7 linked regions of the Homo sapiens genome follow. The gene in region 7 interacts genetically with the main gene of each other region. Each region holds a gene or a part of one and is shown on either strand. Other genes may lie near its edges. The genes, in order: KRAS, CIT, NUDC, FIP1L1, RIT1, GTF2E1 and ERH.

Region 1 (4,100 bases), on a different chromosome or scaffold from region 7:
AAAAACCACTACTTGGGAGACTACCATGGTGCACAGCAAGTGCACAGTAACTGTTCCGTCAATTTTTAACTCATAAAAAGCTATAGTTCAAAATATTGATCTCATGTACACAAACTCAACTACTATTAAACAGAGACATAGCACATAAGGAGGTTGTTTTGCAAAGCATTCTTTAACGGGGTTCTTCTAACAATTAATTTAAATATCTAGAAATTAACAACAAAACCAGGAAATGAATCACTCAACATTTTTAGGTTCGTAAAACTAATTTTCACATTATATTTAAATTGAGACCCCCAGAGAGCAGAAAAGCCGAATGAGGAGTAACAGATACCCCGAAAACTCTGCTTCTGTTATTCACCTTACTGAACCCTCCCACTTTTGATTTTAGCAGACTGGAAAACACACAATTCTCATGGTGTCAATGTTTCAATTTTGACAGCTTTTGCCAACATGGCCATGCACTGTCCAAAGGGACCAGGAAAATCTGTCAACAACCCAGATAAATGTGAACTAGGTAACAGTCCTTATACACTAGGAACATAGGGACTACACAATGTACTAGCAGAAAATAATTCTATTTGCCTTTCAGATATGGACTGAACTGAGTGTAAAGAATATGTAACGCATTATATTCTAGCCAAGTAATTAGCTTTTTAAAATTATAAGTTATTAAGTTGGTAAAAATATATACCCTGCAATTCTTATCTTAAAAAGTACAGCTGGGCACAGTGGCTCACGCCTGTAATCCCAGCACTTTGGGAGGCCGAGACGGGCAGATCACGAGGTCAAGAGATTGAGACCATATTGGCCAACATGGTGAAACCCCGTCTCTACTAAAAATACAAAAATTAGCTGGGCGTGGTGGTGTGCACCCATAGTCCCAGCTACTCAGGAGGCTGAGGCAGGAAAATCGCTTGAATCCGGGAAGCGGAGGTTGCAGTGAGCCAGGATCGCGCCACTGCACTCCAGCCTGGCAACAGTGAGACCGTCTCAAAAAAAAAAAAAATACTAGAGACCAGGCACAGTGACTCACGTCTGTAATCCCAGCACACTGGGAGGCTCAGATGGGAGGATCACTTGATGCCAGGAGTTCAAGACCAGCCTGGCCAACATGGCGAAACCCTGTCTCTACTAAAAATACAAAAATCAGTCAGGTGTGGTGGTGCGTGCCTGTAGTCCCAGCTGCTCGGGAGGCTGAGGCACAAGAATTGCTTGAACCCAGGAGGAGGAGGTTGCAATCAGCCAAGATCCCACCACTGCACTCCAGCCTGGGTGACAGAGGGAGACTCTGCCTCAAAAAAAAAAAAAAAAAAAAAAAAGAGTACTAGGGTAAAATTTCTATTTCCTTTCCATGAACTATGTTAAGTTTTACTTTAAGATTATTAAAGTTAGCCTGTAAAATACAAAAGTTTAACCTAACTTCTAGTAGCTAATCAAACACTAAAGTTACCCAGAGAATTAGGAATCAGCATATTACAGCCAATGGACCAAATGCAGCCACAGCCTTTTTTTTTTTTTTTTGAGACAGAGTCTCGCTCGGTCGTCCAGGCTGGTGTGCACTGGCTTGATCTGGGCTCACTACAGCCTCTGCCTCTCAGGTTCAAGCAATTCTACTGCCTCAGCCCCTTGAGTAGCCAGGATAACAGGCACCCGCCACCACGCCTGGCTAAGTTTTGTATTTTTAGTAGAGACGGGGTTTCAACCACGTTGGCCAGGCTGGCCTCGAACTCCTGACCTCAGGTGGTGTGCCCACCTCGGCTTCCCACCTCATTTCTGGGATTACAGGCATGAGCCACAGCATGCGGCCAGCCTATTTTTATACTATGCACAAGCTAACAACGATTTTTGCATTTTAAAGGGTCATAATTAAAAAAAAATGCAACAGATACCACTTGTGGCCCTCAAAGCCTAAAACATTTACTATCTTGGCCCTTTACAGAAAATATTTGCCAGCCTCTGATTTACATGGATGAGAACTTCTAAATGAATGTTTTGTTCCTTTAACCGGAATATAATTCTTTTTGGGTGTTTACGTGTTTTAGGCTCATGATCAAGACCCCAAAAGTTAGGGCATAAAACAACTTGCCGATAAAATACAACAAGGATATGCACACTAATTTTGTTTAAAAAACAAATAAGGGCCAGGCGCGGTGGCTCATGCCTGTAATCCCAGCACTTTGGGAGGCCGAGGCAGGTGGATCACGAGGTCAAGAGATCGAGACCATCCTGGCTAACACAGTGAAACCCGTCTCTACTAAAAATACAAAAATTTAGCAAGGCATGGTGGCGGGTGCCTGTAGTCCCAGCTACTTGGGAGGCTGAGGCAGAAGAATGGTGTGAACCCGGGAGGCGGAGCCTGCAGTGAGCCAAGATCCCACCACTGTACTCCAGCCTGGGCGACAAAGCAAGACTCCGTCTCAAAAAAAAAAAACAAGAAAGAAAGAAAAATAAATAAATAAATAAATAAATAAATAAGCTGAATAACAGATGAGTAACAAAATACTCTGCAGAAAGGAGGACTTGACATTTTCACCAGTAACTGGAGATGTAAAATTTATTAAAATTCCCATATTTCATTTTATAATCTCTACAGTTACTCGGAATAGCTCTTTAAAGTCTTCCAGAAGCATGCAAATATCAAATTAATTTCAACGGAGGAAGATTAATAAGACTTTTGAAAGGCAAATTAATTTCTAGGCAAATCAACAAGTCCATTTAATAATAAAAGGAAATCAAAGAACAGAAATTAAATATCTAATTTATAGTTTAGCAACATAAATTACATAATAACATCAGTGAAACAGGATGTAAAAGAAAGGTTGAGTGCTCTGTTAAGAAGTACAAGTATTCTTTCATACTGTATCCCTCCATTTTTAATTAGATGATCCACATAAAAATGTCTACAAATCAAATTTGTTTATCTACTTACATATTATATACCTTCAAAAAAACAAATCAAACAAAAAAACCCAAGGCCACAAAACTGTATAAAACCTAAAAATCTCTTATAAAAGGAAGCCAGATAGTTTTCTGATCAAATATGAATGCTGTGTTATATTAAAGTATTAAGGTCAAATAGCAAGAATCAATTAGTACTTCTGAGGTAGTAATCATACAACCACCAAAAAGGAGACACAGCTATTTTAGGATATTATCAAATGAGAAGTGGACAGCAACAAAGTGGGACTAACAAGACTCTTTTTATGTCCTCTACTGCTTTTCTACTCAAAGTATGGTCCAAGTACCAAGAAAAATACCACCTAGGAGTTTGTTAGAAATGCAGACTCGGTCCCCACCTAAACCTTCTGAATTAGAATCTGGATTTTAATAAGCCCAGCTGATTTGTATGCATAAGAAAATATAAGAAGCACTTCTTTACTGCAACCCCTTAAAACATTATGCAAAGTCTCTTAAATTTTTTCTTTTCTTTGTGAAATGTAAGCTAAAATGTTCAGTGGTATAAAAAGCATCTTTTAAAAGTTGTAAGTAAAGCAAATATAAAACAACAATGGTAGAATCTAGGTAGTATATTTGCAAATGTTTTAAATAAAACTCAATTTTGTATTTGAAAATGTTTCATAAGAAAATGTTGGAAGAAAAAATAATAAATATTAGAATCATGTTTTCTCAGTACCTTCTCTCCTAAGAAAAGTCAAGGAGACTGTAAAGACAGTAAAAAGAAAAACAAAAACCAAGCCTCTTCCTGGTCTTTGGAACCTGGAAATGGATTTATGTGAAATCTTAATTCCTCTAAAGTAAAGTGATATATGATATACACCAAGTTTAACCTATAAATCAGGTTTTAGTAAAATTGCCAGATAAATCTGTACAATGGTCAAACTAGAGAAATTCAGTTTTTAATCCTCCCAAAATGACTTGAAGTAGAATTTACTGTTTCTTTACTATATATCAAATTTGTATAACTAGGAAGAGGTACATATGCTCTCCTACTAGGGAAATACAACATATATATTAGCTGGATAATGATTTACATTTACATTTTTGCACCTTTATGAAATTTGATAAACTTCTAGAACGCTTGTTTTTAAATGTTTAACAATGTAAAAGTTGTTCAGCAATTTTTTTTAACTCCTAGC
Region 2 (4,100 bases), on a different chromosome or scaffold from region 7:
CCCCCTCATCCTATCCTCCAGCCGGATGTTTCTTCTGAGTTCAGACATTTTTCTTTTCCATCTTTCTTTCCCCAGGAATAACAAACGAGGACAGCAAGGCTGGGACAGGAAGTACATTGTCCTGGAGGGATCAAAAGTCCTCATTTATGACAATGAAGCCAGAGAAGGTAAATTAATAATTCAGGGGGAAGGTCATTGCACGTGGCTAACCCAGGTCTCCCCAGTGCTGGCGCGAAGGCTTTGTTTTTTGGACTGCCTTGCAAGCCTTCTACGCTTTTCCATTTTTGAAACTTACAAACCAAATGACTTCTCTAAAGGTTATTGGTGCGATACTCACATCTATAGGTCTCCCCCCTGAAGAACCCGCAGGGCGCTGCCCTGAAGATTCCACCTGCTAATACACCTTCCGAGAACTTCTGCCTCAGTCAACTAACCCATAAATCCGCATCGTCATCAGAAATTTGACTGTGCTACTCATCTGACACACTTTATTTTTTTTTATCTTCCCTCTCTGCCTTCTCTGCACACCTCTGTCCCTTCCTTGTTCTCGTGCGCCTCTCTTTACACACGTACCCTGTCTCTCTCTCCCTTGCTGTCTCTCTCGCTCTCTCTTCTCCCCTTGTTCTTGTTCCTGTTCTTTTGTTTTTCTTTCTGCCCTTCCTCTTTGCACCAAGCTGGACAGAGGCCGGTGGAAGAATTTGAGCTGTGCCTTCCCGACGGGGATGTATCTATTCATGGTGCCGTTGGTGCTTCCGAACTCGCAAATACAGCCAAAGCAGGTGAGGAGGAGCCGGAGGAGCCCCGCCCTGGAGGTGGGCCGGGCTTGGCCAATCAGCAGGGACAGAAGGGGTGGTACAGGGAAGATTGGCTCTGCAAAGGAGGCCCATCTTCCTCCGCTCCCCGCCTTGGCGGTAACTGGGATTTGCGTGGTTTGGTGGGCATCTTTGATCTCTCAGGCCCGTCCCTCCCAGTGGGAACGGGGGAAATCCACACCCAATCCTGTGCTCTCTGAAATCTCCTAGATGTCCCATACATACTGAAGATGGAATCTCACCCGCACACCACCTGCTGGCCCGGGAGAACCCTCTACTTGCTAGCTCCCAGCTTCCCTGACAAACAGCGCTGGGTCACCGCCTTAGAATCAGTTGTCGCAGGTGGGAGAGTTTCTAGGGAAAAAGCAGAAGCTGATGCTGTGAGTATGAAAGCGGGCCCTGGAGGTTGTCTTTGTAAAGGGGGCTGACTTGGTAACTGGTGTTAACGACGAGAATCCCATTGGCCATTTTGATTCCCCTCAGGCTCTCTCTCTGAGGGCTGATGGCTCTAGACTGTGTCATGGCCAGGAGTCTGGTGGTGATGAAGGCACAAGCACCAAGGTAGCTTGTGTGGCATCATGATCCATTTAGAATGTGGGAATCAGGGATGCGGTGGCTCATGCCTGTGGTCCCAGTGACCCAGGAGGCCAAGGCAGGAGGATCACTTGAGCCCAGGAGTTTGAAACCAGACTGGGCAAGATAGCAAGATCCCATCTCTTAAAAAAAGAGAAAGAAAGAAAGTTAGCCAGGTGTGGTGACATGCACCTGTAGTTCCAGCTAGTAGGGAGGCTGAGGCCGGCGGATTGCCCAGGAGTTTGAGGCTGCAGTGAGCTACGATTGTGCCACTGTACTCCAGCCTGGGCAACAGAGCGAGGCATGGACTGTAAAAGCAAAGGAAAAAGAATGGGGGAATCGGCATCAGTAGCCTACTCTGGTGGCATTGTAGACCTTGGTTGTGGTGATGCAGCAGCAAATGTACTTATAAGGAAATCCTCTCTCCTGTTTACTCAAATGAGTTTGTCTGGTTTGAAGGCTTGAGTTAGAAGCACTTTGGCCACGAAGCAGCACAATAGGCTGCCGGCAGCTGTGTCCCCTCCAGGAAGGCTTTTCATAAGCATCTCAGTTGTTTTTGCAGTATTTGCTCTTCCGTAGGCAGGTTTGGAGTCCTACTTATCCTTAAGCTGTTAGAAACGTAGGTGTGCTGTGATTGGCATCACCCCACCTAAAATGTTCCAGGATACAAACAGTGCTCATTGCTCATTGACGTTTGCTCCAGCGAAGACCAAACAGCTCTTTTCAGACTCTTCACTCCTAATAAACACTTTATGTGTTAGCAATTGGCAGATTCTTAACCACAAGCCTCCTGAAAAGGGCTTTACTCAGTGGTTAGACCTGTTTGGATGACTTGTTGGTCGTTTCACACGTGAGCTTTTACTGAAATCCTTGTTAATATGTGTACAATAGGCCCGCGACTGTGTTTCTTACGAGCTTCTGCCTGCCTGGGTTCAGGTAAAGAGATGCAGAGGCGTGCTGGCTCGCTGCTAACACGGCGCCTTTGCACTTCTGCTGCAGCCTTATGGGGGAAGGAGTCTTTCATGTGTCTTATTAACCCTGCGCAGGTGAAATCTCCTTAGCTTCAGCTTATTTCTTATTACAGAATAGCTTTCCATGTCTACTACCCTCCCTTATTTCTGCATCCCAGCCAAATTATAACTCAGATGCTAATTAACAGCTGCCCCAGAGATACCAATAGCACTCGCATTTTGCATTTGGAGCTCAGATCAAAATACGGGCTGAGCTAAGAGCATATGTGCGTTTCTGAGCATTTCCAGGAATAACTTGGCCTTAACCTTCTCTTGGTTTCTCTGGATGGTTTGGTCATAAACAGATCAGCCTCACGATGTCTTCTGTTTTTCTTTTCTTTCACCTATGAAAAGAAACTGCTTGGAAACTCCCTGCTGAAACTGGAAGGTGATGACCGTCTAGACATGAACTGCACGCTGCCCTTCAGTGACCAGGTAATGCTTGCATGGGCACGGCCAGCTGGTGTCTGGTTACAGCCACACCCCATCAAGAAAGAAAGGGCTGTGGAGGCCTTGTTGCTCTTACTAGAGATTGTTCTGGTGACGTGACCGTGCTTATGTTCTGCCTTCGGACTTCTGCCCTTGCAGGTGGTGTTGGTGGGCACCGAGGAAGGGCTCTACGCCCTGAATGTCTTGAAAAACTCCCTAACCCATGTCCCAGGAATTGGAGCAGTCTTCCAAATTTATATTATCAAGGACCTGGAGAAGCTACTCATGATAGCAGGTGTGAGGCCAAGGACATGGTGTTTTTTCTTTACTTTCAAGGGAGCCAATATGTTGAAGCCACGTTTCATGCTCGTAAAACACAAAATAGTAGAGAGGAGCCGTTGTAGCTCTTATCTCTGTGTCCCCATAGATGCCCAAGCCTCAGCTAATGGACCCCCTCTGTCCAGATTCAGTTCCCTTCCAGTATCCAGTTTAGCACAGTCTGACATTCCCAAAGAACATCCCACTGTTAGGCCAAGTGAAGAGTGCTAAGCCTCGAAGACTATCTAAAGCCAAACCCTTTGTCCTGATTGCAACGAAACCACCGTGGGCCCTGACCTTCTGAGAGCTTGCTTGCTCTGTTAACTCTGTGATCTCTCTCAAGTCACCATTTGCTAATATTTTGTCATAATTTTTTTCTCTGTCTTCTTAACACACACACACACACACACACACACACACACACACACACACACACACACTCTCTCTCTCTCTCTCTCTCTCTCTTTCCTGAACCATTTGAGAGTTAGTTGCAGGTATGACGCCAAGTTCTTCAGTATATCAACCTAAGGATTGAAGACATTCTGTCACATAACCAGGGTACAGTTTATTTCTCTCTGTCTGTGTTAGTGACATTATTTTTAAAGGGGAAAAGAGTAATATATCGATTCAGTGTTCAAAACAACAACAGTTAGGTCTTGTTTCAGGCATGGCTGGATCCGGGGACTGACATACTATGGACAAGAACTGGCCTTTCTTAATCTCAGCTCTTTTTCCTCCGTCTCTTCCTCTCTTCCTTATTTTATTCTTTAGAGCAGTTTTAGATTCACAGCAAAATTGAAAGGTACAGAGAGTTCCCATATACCCCCGTTCTCATATATGCATAGCCTCCCCCACTACCAACATCCCCCACCAGAGTGATACGTTCGTTAGAGTCAGTGAACCTACATTGACACATTGACAGTGACACATCATTGTCACCCCAAGTCTACAGTTTACA
Region 3 (4,570 bases), on a different chromosome or scaffold from region 7:
CAGTGAGCCTAGATTATGCCACTGCACTCCAGCCTGCGCAACAGAATGAGACTCCATTTCAAAAAATAAAATAAAATAAAATAAATAAAAGTAAAAATAAAACCTCCTGGCCAGGCACAGTGGCTTATACCTGTAATCCCAGCACTTTGGGAGGCCGAGGCGGGTGGATCATGAGGTCAGGAGTTCGAGACCAGCCTGGCCAATATGATGAAACCTCGTCTCTATCAAAATACAAAAATTAGCCAGGTGTGGTGGCGGGCGCCTGTAATCCCACTTACTCAGGAGGCTGAGGCAGGAGAATTGCTTGAACCCAGGAGGCGAAAGTTGCAGTGAGCCGACATTGCGCCACTGCGCTTCAGCTTGGGTGACAAAGCAAGACTCTGTCTCAGAAAATAAATAAATAAATAAAACCTCCTCATTGGAAAAGGAACTGAGAGGCACTGTGTCGGGGCAGAGGACAGGTTTACAACAGACTGGTTTCAACCCTGGTTCTCCCACAGCTCAGCTCAAGACTTTGGATAAGGTGCAAAATTCTCTTGAGCCAATTTCCTCAATGGGGATAGTTAACACCTGCCCCTCTTGTAGAACTGCAAAAGTCATGGGAAATAAGGTAGATAGAGGGCTGAGCAAGGAGTGGAGCTTGAAGAAATGACAGCTTCCTTCCCTTCCCCAATTCCTCACCTTTGGCATTTCGCTTCTGCTGAAAGTTACTATTATGCCAAAGAAAGGCCAGGTGAGCTTTTCTTCTGAAGAGACAGAGCCGCCCAAAGGACAGTGGTTTCCAACACTTACCTTCTCTGCCATCCCTTCTTCTCCTCCAATGAAAAAGTCTGTTTTGCGTCGAAGGAAGCTGAAGAAGGTGTTCACAAGCTGAAAGAGGGGGAGAAGATTAAAGTAGTAGAGCTGCATTTGGGAGCCCTTCAACTGCACACAAGTCAACTTGTTTTGTCTAGGAGGGAACTTGGGACTTGACTATTTTTCCTCTGAGCTTCCCAACTGAGGAGATTATCTCCCCAGCAGGTTCTCTTAGTCACTTCCACCATGAAGCAGATTTCTCATATCCTGTGTGTGTGTGCGCCTTTCACTTTCCTTGTGATGCTAGAAGCAGCCTAAGCGTATGGAACACTCCTCTGCATCCAGGGCATGAAAAGCCTGGGCCCAGCTTTCCTCTCCAGAAAGTAAAAAGCCCATCAAGACACTGGCTCACACCTATAATCCCAGTACTTCAGGAGGCTCAGGTGGGCGGGTCACTTGAGGTCAGGAGTTCAAGACCAGCCTGGCCAACATGGTGAAACCCCGTCTCTACTAAAAACACAAAAATTAGCTAGATTACAGGTGGTGGGCACCTGTAATCCCAGCTACTTGGGAGGCTGAGGCAGAGAATCACTTGAACCCGGGAAGCAGAGGTTGCAGTGAGCCAAGATCGTGCCACCGCACTCCAGCCTGGGTGAGAGACTCTTGTCTAAACAAAAAAAAAGACACTGGCTAAGTTACCGGGTCAAAGCAAGAAGGAGGAGAGCAAATGAAGCCACTTCAAAGGAGGATAAGATGGATTAATTCTGGCTGGAGTACAAGTGTAGCCAACGGTTTGAGTATCAGATGGACATATATTACCTTTTGACTTTGCAGAAGTTTCTTAACTCTGTACAACAGGAATAAGATGCAGTACCTATTTCTAGGGACCTGGTGAGGATCATGAGGTCAAGGAGGTGAGGCCTTTAGCAATGTATGGCACAGAGCAAGAGACCCACTGGCAGAGGGTAAACACCTTACAAATAGGAACCATGAACCATGGCTTAGTCTGTCTGCCACCTGCAATGCTGGGCACCAGATATGGCTAAAGGTACATAATCAGTAAAATTCTTGCTGAATGAAACAATCTAGTGGTGACTCAAGGTCAGCACACACAAACCCTTTATTTGCCCAAGAGTGGGTCTAAATCTGATTAAATCTGATGCTAGAACATATCTCAATGGTTTCCGTTCTTGCTTCTAGACAGTTTTTCAATTTGCTCAAAAATGAACTCGCTCCCAAATCCAGTTTTGTGCGAACAGTTTAGAGGAATGGAGACAGGAAGGCTTTTCACACTTGCAAATGAGAAACACTCTCCCCACCACAAAGGGCTTAGAAGTCCTTGGTCACCAGACACCTAGGTTACATAGGAATAGAAAGTTCAATGGAAACCTACCTCCAGTAAGACACAATCAGCCATGGACTCTGGGAAGCACACTGACCTGTCTAGGTGAGAACCATGTTGCATGATCTAGGCAAATCCTTGCCACTTCTCTGGCTCTGAGAATGAGAGTTCTGATCCTGACAGACTTTTCTACCGTTAACTTTGTGTTTGTTCCAAAAAAACCAACTCCAGAATCTGTAACAGTTGGCCCTTATTGTCGAGTGTGGGACACACATCAATCACACGACAAATACTTGTTGAATGAAAAAGCCTTATTACTGAGAACTTACGGTTCTTAACTACTCTCTGGAAACCGGTATTCGCAGCTGTCTCACAGATAAGGAAACTCAGGCTTGGAGAGATGTAAAGGTTCCAAGTTGGTAGGTGGTGGAAACTAATCGTGAACACAGGCCTCCTATTCCCCCATTCAAGGCCTAACAAGACCACGTGCTAACATCAGCCCGCTCCCCTACCACACACATTCGACGGCTCGCCCCAAGCCTTGGTGGATCCAAATCACGATATTTGCGACGGTTCTTACTAAGGGATGCTCCTTGGAAGCCGCCATCAAAGTGGAAACGGGGGTGGGGGCATATGTGAAACTAAAGGGGGATCCTAAGCTCAGGGATGCGATAATTTGCTACTACTGAGGGGCGCCGGGGGCCCGGGACTGATGCGAACCGGGTGAGACCTGCTGGCGGGTGGCCAGGCCGGAAGCTGGGCGCAGTGAGAATGTAGGGGCATCCCAGAAGCCCGCGAGCCGCTGGGGTGGGTCTCAGCCCTCGAAGGCAGAGAAGGGCGGAAGGAGCGTGGCCAAGGCCGCCGGGTGGGCCGACGCCGCGCGGGCCGTTACCTCCTGCACGCCGCCCTCGTGCTGCTGAGCCATGGCCAGCAACATGCCGTCGAACCGCTCCTCCTCCTGCTCTCCGCCCATCGCGCCGGCTCCGATCCACGTCCCGGAGCTCTGCACTCTAGTCCCGCGCTCTCTACGCTCCTGCGGGTCGCGCCGGGCCCAACGACTCTAGTCGTCCGCCTTCCGCAGCGGAGCCGGAAACACGCACGCGCGCGGCTGCCCAGGCCCGCCTCCACCTCCTCTCTTCCCGCCTTCCTCCCGGTTTGCGGCCATTGACCGTGCGGCAAGCAACCCGCTTCGCCGACCATTGGTCGACATTCGGAGCCAATCAACAAGCGCGTCCACGAAGCGGTAGGCGGAGCCGTGGGCCCGAGAGTTTGGCATGAGTTGCTATGGTCACCCGATGCCGTGGAGACTTCTAGAAAGCCCTGGACTCAAATCTGGCAGGGTTGGAAGTTAAAAAGGGACAAGTTTTGCCCCTCTCCCTTGCTAGCGACCCCCCCAGCTTGTAGAGCAGTGAAGCTGAAAGTAGCCTTACTCATCTCTTCCAATCCTAGAAGGGACTTACCACAGGACAGCCTCCTCCTCATCGACCTCACTGCGTACTTGACTAGGGCCAGCTTCATGGGAGTACAAATTGCAGTCGCACAGCACCCAGGCTTAGAAAGGCTCCACGCTTGATTTCATGGCCTTCTGTTATAGTCTTGAAATTCTTAATAATTTTGGAATAAGGAGACCCACATTTTCATTTTGCACTGGGCCCAGGAAATTATGACAGGTGCTGAAATTGACCTTCACTTCTGTTAATGCGGGGACAGGACCCAGCCATCCAAGCTAATCCCTCCACTTGTGCAATGAATCTCATCATCTTAGTCTTTTCAGGAACTCTATCCCTGTTAATTATCCCTTTTTTTAGCTTATGCATCACAAATATCTTTCTTCTTCCCTTCAATTTACAAACACGCTTTAATATCTTTTTGTTTGTTTTTAGAGATGGGGTTCTTGCATTGTCACCCAAGCTGGAGTGCAGTGGCACCATCTTGGCTTACGGCAGCCTTGAACTCCTGGACTCAAGCCATCTTCCCCACTTCAGCCTCCAGAGTAGCTGGGACTACAGGCTCACATCACCACGCCCTGCTGTTTTTTTTTTTTTGTTTTTTGTTTTTTGTTTTTTGGTAGAGATGGAGTCTGTGTTGCCCAGGCTAAGTCTCAAACCCTGGTCTCAAGCACTCCTCCTGCCTCAGCCTCTCAAAGTGCTGGGATTACAGGTGTGAGCCACCATGCCCAGCCCTGTTTTTATATTATTATTCCATGGCCCCACTTTCTTCTGCTGCTACCTCTCCAATTTTCAGCTCTCATTTGCAGCAAACTTGTTTGCTTGTTTTTCTACTCCCTCACCTCCCATCTCTCTACAGTATATTCTAGTCTATCTATTCTTCTTTTTTTTTTTAGACCAAGTCTCACTCTGTTGCCCAGGCTGGAGTGCAGTGACACGATCTCAGCTCACTGCAACCTCTGCCTCCCAGGTTTAAGTGATTCTC
Region 4 (4,100 bases), on a different chromosome or scaffold from region 7:
GGTTACTTTTTTTAGTTATTAGTATTAGATGTTGAAATGGATTACTGAATGTATTTTATAATTTGTTTATGTTCATGTAGAAAGTGACTGAGACCGAAGATGATAGTGATAGTGACAGCGATGATGATGAAGATGATGTTCATGTCACTATAGGAGACATTAAAACGGGAGCACCACAGTATGGGTAAGTTATTTTTTAGTAAGTAACAATTGTGTAAATGCTATATAGTAAGGAGAGTGTGCCTATATCAAACTCTCAGTGGTTGAGTCCATTGTTTTTACATTTTTCTATTTTAACATAAAAGAACTTGTTAAAGTTTCATCATGAATATACTTCTTTGCTAAAATACAGTTAATTGATTAGGCGAAGGTACATAGAAGCAGCAGTTTTTGATGCTGAATTTAAAGTGTTTTTATAAAAGAATTGAGTGCTAGGCCAGGCATAGAGGTTCATGCCTGTAATCCCAGGACTTTGGGAGGCCGAGGCGGGTGAATCACCTGAGGTCAGGAGTTCAAGACCAGCCTGACCAGCATGGTGAAACCTTATCTCTACTAAAAATACAATAATTAGCCAGGCATGGTGGTGGGCACCTGTAATCCCAGCTACTCCAGAGACTAAGGCAGGAGAATCACTTGAACCTGGGAGGTGGAGGTTGCGGTGAACCCAGATCGAGCCACTGTACTCCAGCCTGGGTAACAGAGTGAGACTCTGTCTCGAGAAAAAGAAAAAAAAAAAGTACTATAAATTCTTTGATTAGAATTAGAAATCCTTAAATTGTAATTTGTATCTGTACTTATTATTATTTCACTTTATTATCCAGACCTGAGTTTAGGTTTTTAATTTTTTTGCCTAATAAAAACAATATCAAAAGTATTTCTTTTTGTTCTTAATAGTGTTTTCAGGTTTCTAATTCTCCCTTAGGCCTTTTAGGCCAATGTTTGTCTCCAATTTTGTATTCTATAAACTGGACCAAGTAAATGGACTGTCATTGACTCATTGAGCGCATAAAGAATCTTACAGAAAGATTGGAAGGGAAATACATTGAAGTACGAATTGTGATTTAGTTACGATAGGAGAATAAGAGTCAATGTGTTTTGTTTTTCAAATTGGCTGTATAATGTGGTTATTATAGCTTATGCATTGGAAACATAAAATACATTAATTTCACTATAGTTCATTAAGCAACCTCATCTGGAATCAACCAGTATATACAAAAATATTGTTAAATATTTTATTAGTAGAGTCATTTGTTTTCAGAAGTCATTTCAGGAAGCTTAAAGCCAATTCAGTTATTGTCATAGTCAGTTTTGTATTATAATAATGACTACCCATGTAATTTTAAAATCCTAGCACCTTTTTAGGGAACAGAGTAAAGAGGCTGATTTTTCATGTTAGGGGTGGATATTCTAAATGTGCTCCTCATTCTCATTTGGGAAAGTAAATAATTACTTAATGAGAAAGTTGGGCTTATACTGTAGTACTAGTAGGCCTTTACTATCTGCATGATGCAAAAGGAACACATAAAATTGTAATAATTGCATGTTCATTAAATGTTATGTAAAATTATTTGTATTTGCAAGTTATAGAACAACTTGAAGCAAATGACAATTTTTTTGGATTATGGATGGGACCTTTTTTTGGTAGAAATTGCACTCAAATATTAAATATACGTGGACTTCCATAGTACCTTACTAAACTTTATTTCTTATAGCAATTTTCAGTTTTATGCATTGTAATTATGTTTATACATATTTATTACCTTTACACACTTCAGATTTCTATAGAGTAGAAACCATTGAATTCAAAACTCTTCAAAAAAACAAGAAACTGTGATTTATGGAGTTTTCTATTCCTCACATTGCCTTAAATACAGTTAAGTGTGCAGTAAATGGTTATTGACTAAATAAACTGAATGTTATTTAGTTACAGTTGTCTCTGAGGGTTTTTCCCCTTAGACATTTGATTATGAAAATTTTCAAATGCTCACAAAAGTTGAAGGAATTGACATGTGAATGCTCATTTACCCATCACCTAGATTATACAATCTACATTTTGCTTTGTTTGCTTGAACTCATATCCCTCTATGCGTTTACCCATTTATCAGTTGATTTATTTTTTATTCATTTTATGCATTTCGAAAGTAAAGTACAGGCATTTGTGAAGAGTGTAAAGTTGTTTAACCTCTATATTTCAAGGTATATCCCTTGAAAACAAAGTCAGTGAGAAAATGAAATTTGATAAACATTTACTTATGCACAGCGTTTTCAGAAGCAAATTTAAAGAACAAACTGTGTCCAAGGACTGAATTGATTTATTGTAAATTGTTAGGAAATACAAAATAGCATTTTTTTTTTTTTTTTGCGTAACATACCTTTGTTACAAGTTCATTTTATATGTAAGTAAGGTATGAAGAAAAGCAACTCTTAAAGTAGAAATAATTTATCTTGGAAAGTAGTTTGTTACCTATCTCTGTGAGATTGATCCATTTATGTACTCAATAAATAATTTTTAAAGACATAATTTATCTGGCACTGTGTTAAGTAGCAAAGATAATGTGCCTTTATCAAACCATCTGTGATCATTCCATTATTATTATTGTTTTTACATTTACCATGCTACAAAAGAACCCTTGGTAAAATCACCATGAAATTTCATGGAGTTAACAAATTAGATAAAGTTACATGAAAGCAGCAATTTTTTATCTGTGAATGTATTAATTGATGAGAATACAGGAAGTTATTATTTTCCAGAGGTAGTGAGGATGCCAGACATGTGAGTAAATATTTTCAGTGCAACATAAGTGCTAGAATAGAAACATGTACAAAGTGATTCGAAAGGTTTGAGAGGAGAGTTGCTAAAAGCCTACAGGTGTTGAAGAGAAGATCCCAGAGGTAACATTTGAACTTGTTTGAATAATTTTTGAGATGGGAGACAGTGGTTTTTAGGTGGAGGACACTGCCTAACAATAAATATATTAGATGCGTGCCTTGGAGGAAGTACATGGCTGGAGGATAAGGTAGATGAAAAGAGATGGTTGAAATCACTTATGGAAGGAGTTAGGATGCTTTTGCTATGTCTTTGTAGACCTTGCAAGCTTGTCCAATGCACCTTATTTTGTTGCTGTTGTTGTTCTGTTTTGCTTTGTTTTAGTCTTTTAGCTGCCCAAAGCCATGGTTTTTAGTTTCTGTCTCCAGTGATAAGTGGAAAAGAGGGGTGATAAAGGGGCTTTACTGGCCTAACCAGAAACAGAAACTAAGGACTCATGACTGTATTCTCTCCCTTAGACACCCCTAATTAGGTTTTTAGACAGGTCATATCATTTGAAAAGATAACTCTAGCATCAGTAGTTGAGATGGGTTAGATAGAGAGACATTGACTAATAGATGTGAAGTAGTTGTCCAGGTGAGATGATAATCTAGACTAAGGCAGCAGTAGTAGAGAGATGAATGGGAAAATAGTACATTTGAGTATTAGAGAAACAGAAATATAGTCAGGCATGTGGTATACACCTGTAGTCCCATGGACTTGGGAGGCTGAGGTAGGAGGATTGCTTGAGCCTTGGAGTTTCAGGCCAGCCTGGGCAATATAGTAAGATCCTGTCTCAAAGAATAAATAGAAACAAATAACATGGGTAACTGGTTGGTTGTGGATGGAGGAGGAGATAAAGGGCTCAGTGACTTAAAGATTTCTAGAGCAGTTAATTGGGTACAGGTGGGTGCTACTGCTCCCACCTCCCACAAAACAGATTCATTTGACATGTTTATTTTGGAGTTCCTATAGAAAGTCCAAGTATAGGATCTAGCATTTAGAGTGGTCTGAGACTTCATAGGGATCTATTGGACATTATATCAAATTTGCCTCTGCAATTTTTCATACCACTAAGCTTCTCTACACAGGCTTCTCTACAAAGGCTTGTGGCTTAAAAAAGAAAAATGATGTTTTAAAAGGCAGAATGGGGAATAGAAAGTAGCTAGGTGGAAAGCGAAGAAGCTCATTTATTGAACACTTGTGGCTAAGCCTTTTATAAAAATACTGTTTTATTCTATACGGTCCTGTAAGAGAACAGTTTAGAGAAAATCCTTGATTTTTGTACATTTGT
Region 5 (4,015 bases), on a different chromosome or scaffold from region 7:
AATCTCTGAACAATTTTTTTTTTTTTTTTTGAGACAAAAGCTTGCTCTTATCCCCCAGGCTGGAGTGTGATGGCACTATCTCGGCTCACTGCAACCTCCGCCTCCCAGGTTCAAGCAATTCTCCTGCCTCAGCCCCCGCAGTAGCTGGGATTACAGGCACCCAGCACCACGCCCGGCTAGTTTTGGTATTTTTAGTAGAGATGGGGTTTCACCATGTTGGCCAGGCTGGTCTCGAACTCCTGACCTCAGGTGCTCCACCCGCCTCGACCTCTCAAAGTGCTGGGATTACAGGCATGAGCCACCGCGCCTGGCCTGAATCTCTGAACAGTGTTCTAAATTTGATATAGTACATGAAAAAGTCAAGACTTTTTCTATTTTTCCCATCCCTGGAATCATGTGCTCTATGAAATGACCATATCAAAGCTGGGCCACCACAAAACATTATTGGCTTTGCGGGAAACAGAGCAGCAGAGGCCTGACCCAATGGAAATCCTTCCTAGAGAACTAGGATCATGGCAAAGAGTGTCACATACTGAAAATAATAAGGCCCGGCGCAGTGGTCACGCCTGTAATCCCAGCACTTTGGGAGTCCGAGGTGGGCAGATCACGAGGTCAGGAGATTGAGACCATCCTGGCTAACACGGTGAAATCCCATCTCTACTAAAAATACAAAAAAAAATTAGCCGGGCTTGGTGGCGGGCGCCTGTAGTCCCAGATACTCGGGAGGCTGAGGCAGGAGAATGGCATGAACCTGGGAGGTGGAGCTTGTAGTGAGCCGAGATTGTGCCACCGCACTCCAGCCCGGGCAACAGGGTGAGACACCGTCTCCAAAAAAAAAAACAAAAAAAGAAAATAACAGTACAGCTGACTTTCTGTGCCCTCTCCCATTCCCACATCCATTTTTCTTTCATATTAGGATATAAACCCTTAGAATCAAACCTGCTTCCTTATGGTTTAGGAATGACAGTAATGTTCTTAGTCTTTGTAGAGATTAGCAATTAAAAAATAAAAAAGTCAAAGCAAACAAAATGACTTTTTTACTCTATTAGCGTTCTGCAACAAGAGTTAAGGACCATAAAAGACATCGGAGGGCTAGGCACAGTGGCTCACGCCTGTAATCCCAGTACTTTTCGAGGCTGAGGTGGATGGATTACTTGAGGTCAGGAGTTTGAGACCAGCCTGGCCAACATAGTGAAATCCCATCTCTACTAAAAATACAAAAATTAGCCGGGTGTGGTGGCAGATGCCTGTAATCCCAGCTACTCAGGAGGCTGAGGCAGGAGAATTGCTTGAACCCGGGAGGCGGAGGTTACAGTGACCGGAGATCGCACCATTGCCCTCCAGCCTGGGAGACAGTGCGAGACTCCATCTCAAAAAAAAAAAAAAAACAACAGACAGACATGGGAGAAGACATTACTACGTAATGAACTTAAGGTATAAGGAAGTAAACCAAGAGCTCCAAGTGCAAGATGTCCAGGCTTGGCATGTCTGGGTTGTAAGAGTTCAGCAGCCTGGCTCTACTTGTTTCTCTGCTTCCTTTTGTGGAAGTTCAAACCAGCTGACTCACAGTTACAGAGCGAGTCTCAAGTCATACCCTTAGAGAAGTGACAGCAAGAAAAGGCTTCGTTAAGTGGCCTGTATACAACCATAAAAAAATACAACAAAGAGAGTTGTCCCATTAATGTTCAGTAAGAGACAAAGACTAAAGATGGCTTATGACATAAAGTCTGAAAAAAAAAGAAATATTCAGTTGCTTACCAACTGCTGATACCCTTGTTTCTAAATAAATCTGAATTAGACTCCAAAAAAGCCTCAAAATATAAATAGTTAGAAACTACTGATATTCATTAAGATATTTTTATGGGGTATATTTGGAAACATAAGTGATGATCTGGCTTACCAATGGTGGGATCATGATCTTCTGGGAATCGGTGGCTGATGAACTGCATGGTCATGGCTTCAAAAGAAGAAATAAAAGTCAAATCCTCACAAAGGTGACCCACAGAGAGAATTTTAAGTATTAACATTGCAAGATAGCAAGTATCCCATCTGGTCATTTAAGTACTTTTCATCCATGCTTCCTGTCAAATGGAAAATGTTACCTACCACTCTTCCCTACACCACCAGCACCCAGCATCACTAGTTTGTACTCCCGTGAGAGCCCAGCGGGGCTGCTACAGCAGCTACCAACTGGGCGAGTTCCAGAATCCATTGTCCTCTTGGGGCCTTCCTCGGTTGCCCCGAGGAAAAGCCACCTAGAAAAGGAGGAGGAAATGCTTAATCCAGGATGGAGACACCACGGCGACAGCCCTCAAGCCAGTGCCTTACCTTTCCATACATATTCTGGCCTGTCCCTCTTACTCTGGCCTGTCCCTCTTGCTCACCACTGCACCCTTTCGGGTGGCCCTAAGAAACCCCCCCATCTTCACCCTCCCTCCTAGACAGTTCAGTCACATGACACATCACAGGTTTTACTTTTTCCAAAGAGAAAAATAAAAAGATACAAATAAATTTACGTCTCGGCACAGTAGGGACAAGGAGAAAGTTTTGGGAAGAAAGGGATGCGGCCCCTTAGGCCGCAGGGGTTCTCTCACGTCTGCGGTACCCAGAGGTTCCGCCCCCTCCCCATTCTCCTCCGAACCCCCTCCCCACCCCCAGCTGCTGCTCCGCCGCCAGACTCCCCACCCCTCTACCTCACAAGCCGACGCCCTGCTGCTCCTACTGGTCAGTGGGGACTGGAACACCACAGCCGGTCGGGTCACGCACTTCGTCTTCCTTCACTCGCGGAGGCTCCGGCACTGACCTGTGACCCCTCCCGCAACCGAGTAAGATGGCGCCACCGGCGCCCGAGTCGCGGAAGGAGGGGCGGGGCCACTCAGTGACGCCCACAGCCTGCCCCGCCCTCTTCCCGCCCCTCCCAGGTCCCTAAAACCCAGTTCCGGGACCCACCGCTGAAGGTCCTCTGGTCACCTACCCAACCTAGGGTGTATGCACTCACAGACAAGGGTATTTAATCACGAGTAGAAAGTAAATTATTTACACAAAAGGGAAGGGAGTACGTGATAAGAGACATGCAGGGACACTTAAATTAACAACTTACCGAGGGTTGTTTGCTGCTTGTGGGAAAAAAAAAAACCCAAAACTAATTTGACCCAATGTAATGAGAGGAAGGGAGGACAGGGGCACCCCCCAAATCCTCCTAAAACACAGGATTTCAGTCAAGTCTACCGGGGATGACTACTCATAGGAGAAAAATGACTTTCCTAAAGGAGCGGCCACAATGACTTTTGCTATTGAAACCTAAATTCATTCTCAGAAACCAGATGTTCACAACACTCCCTAATCAGAGTTCTGTATGTATTTTAAACACGTATAAGACACACAAAAACTTGTTTTAAATAAATGTACCACACTCTGGCAGGAAAGAGAGCTCTGAGTTAACAGAGGCCTTGAGTTAAATACAGAACTGAAGCGCAGCCACTATAACCATATTCCCCTCTATTTACGTAGCACAGGTGCTAGAAGAAACTGACACGAAAATTGTTCTCATGCAGCTCTGCCTACCACTGTTCTTTTTAAATGTCTTTCTGGGCCGGGCGGGCGCGGTGGCTCACACCTGTAATCCCAGCACTCTGGGAGGCCGAGGCAGGTGAGTCATGAGGTCAAGAAATAAGAGACCATCCTGGCCAACATGTAAAACCGTCTCTACTAAAAATACAAAAGAATTAGCTGGGTGTGGTGGCATGCGCCTATAAGTCCCAGCTACTCGGGAGGCTGAGGCAGGAGAATCACTTGAACCTGGGAGGTGGAGGTTGCAGTTAGCTGGCTGAGAGGGTGCCACTGCACTCCAGCCTGGCAACAGAGCAAAACTCCGTCTCAAAATTTAAGTCTTTCTGGCCAGGAGTGCTGGCTCACGCCTGTAATCCCAGGACTTTGGGAGGCTGAAGTGGGCTGATCACTTGAGGATCAGGAGTTCAAGACCAGCCTGGCCAAAATGGTGACTCCCTGTCTCTAC
Region 6 (4,100 bases), on a different chromosome or scaffold from region 7:
GGTTGAAAGAATTTCACAGTGAACAGCCATGTGACCACCATTTAGATTCTACAATTAGCATTTTGCTATTCATCACATATCTATCCATCTATCATTTTTGATGTATTCAAAGTAATTTCATCCCTAACTTCAGCATAGTTTTTAATCACAATATTTCTAATATGTATTTATTTTAACTTAAAGCCAAATTCTTTACAGCTTACCACCACAACTTGTACCCTTTCCTGGCAGCTTTAGTCTTTTTTGTTTTCACATTACACATTTGGGCCTACGTTATGGGGAAAGCCAAATAAATACCTAAAACCAAGAGTTTCTAGTCATCCTGAACATTGTCACAGGCTATTTTTTAAAATTTATTAACCATTTGTATCTAATCAATTCAATCTATTATGCTAAAACTCACACTCTTAAACATTACTTAACAGTCTACACCACTAGCCACACCTGGATTTCCAGTTTGGTTCTTATTCCCAAAGACAGGAATATGCATCCTTCCTTTCTGACTCAACTTACTTGAAAGATTAAAAGGGAACATGTAAGTACTTAGTGTCTGGCAAATAGTTAAGTACTCAAACATTTAGCTATAAAAGGCCCCATGTATGATTGATACATAAAGAACAAACAACCAAGTGATCTCTACTTCAACATAACACTAGATCCTACTGATACATTACCAGTATAATAATTTTCTTTACTGCCCCTCACACATAGCCAATAGCATGTAAATTATTTGTTCAAATACCCTAAAATACATCTTCTTATTGTCTAAATGCCACCTAATCTACATCTATCCCAAATAAGTGAGAAAGAGAGAGAAATGCAGCCCTTCACAGCTAGGAGGTGGCTCAGCACTCACAGCTAGACTGTGGCATTTTTCTGTCAAACAAGATCTCACAGATCACTAACATCAGACTATGATGGAAGTGAGGCAAACCCAAGCCACTGTGGAATTGCGTCTGAGAACAGACAAAAGCAAGGACTCCATGCAAACCACAAAAAATCCCATCTTGCACAAGTGACTGCTGCTTCTTTACCATTTAGTTTTAGCGTCACTCTGTTCTTGTCACCTCCTAGATAAGATTTATGAAGATACCCAATCATAGAATTATCCCCACTTCTTCACAGCATCCAATCCAAAGGAAACCTTCATCACTTCCCTGAATCCTCCCCAAAATTACCCAACAAAAGCCCACATTCTCTAAGTCTGTCCAACATCATCTTACCGACATTTCATGGTTTCCCCATGGTATGTGGCTTCCCTTGCTGCAGAAAGCATCAATAAACCTAACTTTGTTTACTACAGGTGCGTACCTGATAGCTTTTGACTAATGGTCACGAACATAAAGATTATAACTTAATCAACTGGACAAGAATACTATTATACCAAAGTAAAGAGAGGAAGAACTAGCTTTTTTTTTTTTTTTAGGTAAAAGATATCAAATTGCTTTAAATATAAAAATGAATATGTAAAAAGCCAACTAATTACAAATGCTAACAATTCAGCTCAAGAGAGGGGTTTAGACTACAAATTTAGATATGAGAATCAACAACCTATAGGTGGTAACTGAAGCCATATAGTAGATAGAAGCATCCGAAGAGATTAAGGAGAGTGAGAAGAAGCAGTTAAGGCATAAACTCAAGGAATGAGGAATCCTTGAGAAAGAGAAATGGTGCAACCAGAGTGACAGGATGGTGTTTCAAGGAAATGTATGGTCCTAATATTAAGAGGCCAACAAGAGTTGAAAACTAGCTTTTATATTTGGTAACAAAGGGTAAGAAGCAACCTTGGCTAGAAAGGTTTTAGGTAGAATGTTATCTTATATTATTCTCCAACTGTTCCAAGCTGTCTCAGCCTCTTCTCTTCAACAGAAGCAAGGAATATAATCATGTGGGGGCTTAAAAATAAACCACATAAAGTAGGGTTGAATATAGCTCTCGAATACCTGCTGAATTAAAAAACACACCAATGTGAGACTGGGACTTAAATTGACTGTTGAAAAATAAGCACCTACAGAGACTGTCAATGAGAACTAAGAATAGTTTGGAAGACAAGTTATCTAGTTCTGTAGTTTTCAAAATGTTTTTAAAGAAAGGAATCTCATTTCTCAAATGGAAAGGTGATTAATATATAAACATAAAAGCAAATGCTCTGGGGTAAAGTATAGAAACACAGCTAAGACAAAGGTTAATACTCCAACCCTCTCATTATCTGTTTTCAAAGCATCACAAACCGGCCTCCTCAATGTCTCCCATCAGGCACACTCTGCTGCAGAGCCTTTGCACTGCTGTGCCCTCTACCCAGATGCCTTCCCTCCAGAAAATCACATGGCTCATCTCCAAACTTACTTCAGTTCTTTACTCAGAAGCCACCAGTAAGGCCTTCTGTAGCCAACATTATCTAAAATTTCAACTGTCTTGTCCACCCAAACAATCGTATCCTCTTTCATTTTCTTTTCCCTTAGCATTATCATTATCCAACATGTTTTATTATTTATCTAATTTATCATTAAAAAGTCATGTTATACCCGAATTTTAAAAAAATGTCCTCCCAAATACCCCATTTCTCATTTTAAGACAATATGTACTCCAAACTTCAGCTTTAAGTAAACAAATCAACATGCTTGTCAGTGTAGCTCATCCTCATAAAACAGCAGTGCTTTTATTTGGGGAAAAGAGAGAAAGAGAACAACACTAATATCATTATTTCACAGAAGGACAATCTCAGAATGACAGTCCTTTAACTCGAGTAATTTATTTTCATGAAAAAGAATAGGGGGAAAAATAAAGTATATAGTCATAAGGCACCTAAATTCTAATCTCATCCAAACTTAACAGGAGTTACTTACAGAAGGGCTGATTTTGCAGGTATGAAAACAGCAGCTTTAACATTATTACTAAGAACTGTGAAGGGTCTGAGATTTTACCCTACTTGTAAGCTAACAAGTTATTCTGCCAGTTTCATGGATACTGGCAGAAGACACAAGACCCCAGGTCAGAGACAAAGAACTTCACTACTCAAGGAAATAGCAGTAGCCAGTGTCAGTATTTAAGCCAGTTCCCCATGCCCCAATTTCCATGGGGTGCGATAGAAGGGCCAGGTAACAATTACACATGCAATGGGTTGTGTTACAGGAAAGAGAGCCTGAGCTTAAAAGGAACTCAAATATTTTATAATGGGCATAAGCATGCCCATTCTTTGCACTGGAGGGTGGCATTATCCTTACTTACTATAAACTCTATGTAAACATGCTCTGGAAGGAGACACTTTTTATACTGGACCATAAGCAAACCTGCTCTTTGCTCTGAAGAGAAATACTATCTCTGTCTTGCAAGGCTGCTCGTTATATAAACATCCTTGAAAATGATAGTCCAGGAAAAAAAGCAGTCAGTCTGTATCTCTGCTTGCCAAGACATGCATAACATGTGAGAGACCCATGGAGAATAGTCTCCCAATAAATACCACATCTAGCAAATATTACAAAAGGAAAAGCTAGCCTGACATCTCTGAGCCCTGTGTTTATCACAAAAACATTAGTTATAAATGAGAAGCCTGTCAAAGCCAAATGTAGAATTTCTTATTTTTCTTCTGGGACCCTAAAAAATGCAAGAAAAGTAAGAAATTTGACATTTTACAGAAAATGACTTAAGACCAGTTTAATATACCAGCAGCATTTTTTATACATTTCACTACGCATTGTAAAAATGCAAATCAGTTTTCCTGAAATCAGAAGGGGCAAGTGGCAAGGGGCAGGAGGACACGGAAACCCAGCACATACTATGTAGCAAGCAGGCACCCACGCTACTGAGAGAGTGGTGGTGGCATACACAGACAGAACCAGTCAGCAAGAAGCTTTAGTAGGGAAGAAAGATGTCTGGAGATAAAACAATCAGGGATCAGTGCAAAAAATAAAGTACATAAATGTTTTGGAGTTCAAAGAAGGAATGTGACTTCTAGCTGAGGACACTAGGAAAAGCTTATTGAGAAGGTAAACCTTTTTGAGAGACAGTTTAGAAGATAAAAGATGAAGGAGAAGATGAAGGGGTAAGGGAACAGGACATTCTAGATCATCATAAGAGAAGTAGGGTGGTTGAAAAATGAT
Region 7 (4,100 bases):
TTCCAGCCTGGGTGACAGAGTAAGACTCTGTCTCGCACGCCAAAAAAAAAAAAAAAAAAAAAAAAAAAGCATATTGCTAGGTTAAAGCAGCCAGTCTGAAAAGGCTTCATACTCCGTAACTCTAACATGACATTCCAGAAAAGGCAAAACTACAGATATGGTAAAAAGATCAGGGGTTTGGGGGTGGTGGCAGGGAAGGAGGTATAGGTGGAGCAATGGGGATTTCTGGTAGTGAAACTACTCTGTATGATACAGTAAAGGTAGATACACGTAATTATACATGTCAAAACCCACAGAATGTTCAACACATACAGTAAACCCTAACATAAACTGCGAACTTTAGTTAATAATAATCTATGAATATTAATTCACCAATCCCAACAAGTGTAATCAGACTAATAGAAGATGCACTAATAGGGGAAACTAAGAAGGGGAGGAAAGAAGGCGTATGCTGGAGCTCTGTACTTTCCAAACAATTTTCCCATAAGCCTAAAACTGCTCTAAAAACATGGTCTTAAATAAAGTCTTTAACTGCTCTTAAAAAAAAGGGGGGAGGAAAAAAATGCTCTGATCTACAGGGGAATATTTACTACAAGAAAAAAAAAAAAAGAATAATAAAATTACCATTTGGCAACCACATCATGTGAGAACTTATTTAATAATTATTTTAACATTTTTTTGTTTTAGTTTTTTAAATGGGAAATAAATCACCACTTTTAATTTTTAGAAAAAGAGCTACCAAGTCATGAAAAGACATGGGGGAAACATAATAAATGCACATTGCTAAGTAAAAAAAGCCAGTTAAGAAAAAGCCACACACGATAATGATTCCAACTATATGACATTCTGGAAAAGACAAAACTATGGAGACAGTAAAAAGACCAATGGTTCCCAGAGGTTGAGGGTGGGGTAGGAGGGGATGAATAGGTAGAGCACAAGAAATGTTTAGGGCAGGGCAGTGAAACCATTCTGTGTGATGCTGTAATGGCGGACACATGACACTGCGCATTTGGGAAAATCCACAGTAATGTAGGACATAAGAATGAAACCTAGTATGAACTATGAACTTTACTTAATGACAATGTATCAGTAATGAATACTGGTTCACCACTGTTACAAATGCACCACACCAGTGAAATTCATTAATAATAGGGGAAATTGTGTAGGGGTGAAGAAAGAGAGTAATATCGGAAAAACTGTAGTTTCTGTTCAATTTTTCTAGAACCCTGAAACTGCCCTGAGAAATAAGAGTATTGCAGAATCAAAGACCAAACATGATAATGTAGGTTAGGTAACAATTTGCTAAGAGAGCCTGCATACAAAATCTACATCAATAGCAGGCAGAAATGTCAGCAGAGAAATGGATCTGTAAAGAGATGAAGAAAAAAATGCCATGTTCTTCTTTAAGAATTAGAGTAGATGGCCTGGAGTGGTGGCTCACGCCTGTAATCCCAGCACTTTGGGAAGCCGAGGTGGGTGGATCACTTGAGGTCAGGAGTTCGGGACCAGCCTGGCCAACGTGGCGAAACCCTGTCTTTACTAAAAATACAAAAATTAGCTGGGCGTGGTGGCACACACCTGTAGTCCCAGCTACTGAGGAGACTGAGGAAGGAGAATCATTTGAACCAAGAAGGCAGAAGTTGCAGTGAGCTGAGATGCACCACTGCACTCCAGCCTGGGCGACAGAGTGAGACTCTGTCTCAAAAAACAAAAAGAAACAAAGACACCTGCACTCATACGTTTACGGCAGTACTATACACAACAGCAAAGTCATGGAATCAACTACGTATCCATCAATGGATGACTAGACAAAGGAAATGTGGTGTATGAGAATGCATGCACACACATCCCATGGAATACTACTCAGCTATTAAAAAAAGAATAAAACCATGTCTTTGCAGCAACATGGATGGAATTGGAGGTCATTATCTCAAGTGAAGTAACTCAGAAAGTCAAACATTTAATGTTCTCATTTATTAGTGGAGGCTAAATGATGTGTGCACATGGACAGACAGAGTGGAATAACTGACACTGGAGACTACAAAAGGTGGGAGAATGGTGAGGGATGAAAAATCACTACTGCGTACAATGTACACCAGGTGATGGCTACAATAAAAGCCCAGACTTGGTTGGCGCGGTGGCTCATGCTTGTAATCCCAGAACTTTGGGAGGCTAAGGCAGGAGAACTGCCTGAGGCTAGAAGTCTGAGACCAACATGTGCAACACAGTGACCCCATCTCTATAAAAAAACCAAAAAATTAGCCAGGTGTGGCGGCAGGTGCCTCTAGTCCCAGCTATTTGGGAGGCTGAGGCAGGAGGACTGCTTGAGCCCAGGAAACTGAGACTGCAATAAGCCATTATCACCACTGTACCCCAGCCTGGGTGACAGAGCAAGACCCCGTGTCTTAAGGAAAAAAAAAAAAAGGCCCAGACTTTACTACTATGCCATATATCTATATAAGAAGACTACACTTGTATCCCTTAAATCTATTAAAACAACCTATTAAAAACAGACAGACACACAAGCCTATAGTGTTTGAGCTTAACCAGAATATATAAGGGATACCTGTAAAATATTTCCATACTGTAACAAAATAACATGTGACAAATAAGAAGAGAATATTTATAAAACAACAAGCAGCTCTGGAAAGTCACTCATTATATACATTAGTTTAAAAAAAAAAAACACCTAATACTTGTAGCAAGGAGGATACTATATACATAATTAATGTTTAAAATGTTCAACCGGCCAAGGCGGATTACTTGAGGTCAGGAGCTCGAGACCAGCCTGGCCAACATGGTGAAACCCCATCTCTACTAAATACACAAAAAATTATCTGGGTGTGGTGGCCCATGCCTGTAGTCCCAGCTACTTGGGAGGCTGAGGCACAAGAGAATCACTTGAACCTGGGGGGCGGAGGTTGCGTAAGCCGAGATCGCATTACTGCACTCCAGTCTGGGTGATAGAGCGAGACTCTGTCTCAAATAATACATAAATAAACAAACAAATAAATAAAATGTTCAATAATTATGGTCCATCCTAAATATCTGCTTTCCCTCCTAAAATTAGCAATTCAATAAATTTGGAGGGTTGGAAGTGATAAAGGCAGGGCCTGGGGTGGATGGACTATTAAAAAAAAAAAATTTGGAGGGGAAAAACCCAGTTCCTAAATGAGACATTTTTCTACCCCTTGATTAGTGTTAAACTCACCTTCCATGCATTCATTCACAGATTCGTAGTCAGCATAAGTTCTGCCTTCTGGCCTCTTGGTAGGCTGTACCAGCAAAATGGTGTGAGACTGCAGGGGAAAACATGATTTCAATATAAGTTTCTATTTGAGAAATTCATAGTATGATAAAAAAAAATCCCCATTTGTAATGCAATAATGATTGCTAGTTATTAAAATGTAATTAGAGAGGCCAGGCATGGCATCCCATGCCTATAATCCTCATCCTCTGGGAGGCTGAGAGGGGGAAAATCACTTGAGGCCAGAAGCTTGAGACCAACCTGGGCAACATAGCAAGACCCTGTCTCTACAAAAAAATAAAATTTGCCGGGTGCATGCCTGTAGTCCCAGCACTTTGGAAGTCTAAGGCAGGAGGATTCCTTGAGCCCAGGAGGCTGAGACTGCAGTGTGCCATGATCACACCATTGCATCGGAGAGTGAGGCCCTATCTCTTAAAAGAAAAAAAAAAGTCATTAGGATACTTTTCCCACAAAAATATTGATGTCTTAGTCTAAGTATAGTATCTAGCTGGATTCACAACTCTGCTGTACGGTCTCCCTAAGTCTCCCAGTCCTACCGTACTTACTGCCTACAAGTAATCAGTATAAGCTACCTTGCCCTCCTTTTCCTTTTCTATCTTTTCTTCCCAACTAAATTATAAACCTGCTTAGGTTTTCTGTCTCCAGTGGTCACTTTCCATCTTTAATGCTCTTAAGTCACTAATAAAAACTCAGATGGGCTGATGAAAGGAAACAAAAGGGGAAATAGTATAATAATCACAAGCATGGTTTCAACTTAAGCTTTTTTTCCAACCTCAGCGTAAGAGCAAAGTCACATTTTATCCAGGGGTTAGACTTAACATTAAAGCAGTAG

The links.
Region 1: changes in ERH (region 7) and KRAS are lethal when combined (synthetic lethality), as found in Homo sapiens cells (3 studies listed by BioGRID, with this or other methods).
Region 2: changes in ERH (region 7) and CIT together harm fitness more than expected from each alone (negative genetic interaction), as found in Homo sapiens cells (one large-scale study listed by BioGRID).
Region 3: changes in ERH (region 7) and NUDC together harm fitness more than expected from each alone (negative genetic interaction), as found in Homo sapiens cells (one large-scale study listed by BioGRID).
Region 4: changes in ERH (region 7) and FIP1L1 together harm fitness more than expected from each alone (negative genetic interaction), as found in Homo sapiens cells (one large-scale study listed by BioGRID).
Region 5: changes in ERH (region 7) and RIT1 together harm fitness more than expected from each alone (negative genetic interaction), as found in Homo sapiens cells (one large-scale study listed by BioGRID).
Region 6: changes in ERH (region 7) and GTF2E1 together harm fitness less than expected from each alone (positive genetic interaction), as found in Homo sapiens cells (one large-scale study listed by BioGRID).

What each region holds. Positions count from the first base shown.
Region 1 is NC_000012.12:25,219,727-25,223,826, forward strand, and holds part of KRAS (GTPase KRas), read right to left. Parts: intron 149-4,100; exon of another isoform or gene 1-148. UniProt on the Homo sapiens protein: Ras proteins bind GDP/GTP and possess intrinsic GTPase activity. Plays an important role in the regulation of cell proliferation.
Region 2 is NC_000012.12:119,709,270-119,713,369, reverse strand, and holds part of CIT (citron Rho-interacting kinase), read left to right. Parts: intron 1-75; coding exon 76-167; intron 168-674; coding exon 675-779; intron 780-1,022; coding exon 1,023-1,192; intron 1,193-2,276; coding exon of another isoform or gene 2,277-2,321; intron 2,322-2,749; coding exon 2,750-2,830; intron 2,831-2,983; coding exon 2,984-3,119; intron 3,120-4,100. UniProt on the Homo sapiens protein: Plays a role in cytokinesis. Required for KIF14 localization to the central spindle and midbody. Putative RHO/RAC effector that binds to the GTP-bound forms of RHO and RAC1. It probably binds p21 with a tighter specificity in vivo.
Region 3 is NC_000001.11:26,920,389-26,924,958, reverse strand, and holds the start of NUDC (nuclear migration protein nudC), read right to left. Parts: upstream 3,217-4,570; 5' UTR 3,111-3,216; coding exon 3,030-3,110; intron 871-3,029; coding exon 793-870; intron 1-792. UniProt on the Homo sapiens protein: Plays a role in neurogenesis and neuronal migration. Necessary for correct formation of mitotic spindles and chromosome separation during mitosis. Necessary for cytokinesis and cell proliferation.
Region 4 is NC_000004.12:53,383,693-53,387,792, forward strand, and holds part of FIP1L1 (pre-mRNA 3'-end-processing factor FIP1), read left to right. Parts: intron 1-80; coding exon 81-184; intron 185-4,100.
Region 5 is NC_000001.11:155,908,550-155,912,564, forward strand, and holds the start of RIT1 (GTP-binding protein Rit1), read right to left. Parts: upstream 2,801-4,015; 5' UTR 2,694-2,800; intron 2,370-2,693; exon of another isoform or gene 2,337-2,369; coding exon of another isoform or gene 2,329-2,336; intron 2,256-2,328; coding exon of another isoform or gene 2,213-2,255; coding exon 2,107-2,212; intron 1,958-2,106; coding exon 1,901-1,957; intron 1-1,900.
Region 6 is NC_000003.12:120,766,521-120,770,620, reverse strand, and holds part of GTF2E1 (general transcription factor IIE subunit 1), read right to left. Parts: intron 1-4,100.
Region 7 is NC_000014.9:69,391,614-69,395,713, forward strand, and holds part of ERH (enhancer of rudimentary homolog), read right to left. Parts: intron 3,300-4,100; coding exon 3,212-3,299; intron 1-3,211. UniProt on the Homo sapiens protein: May have a role in the cell cycle.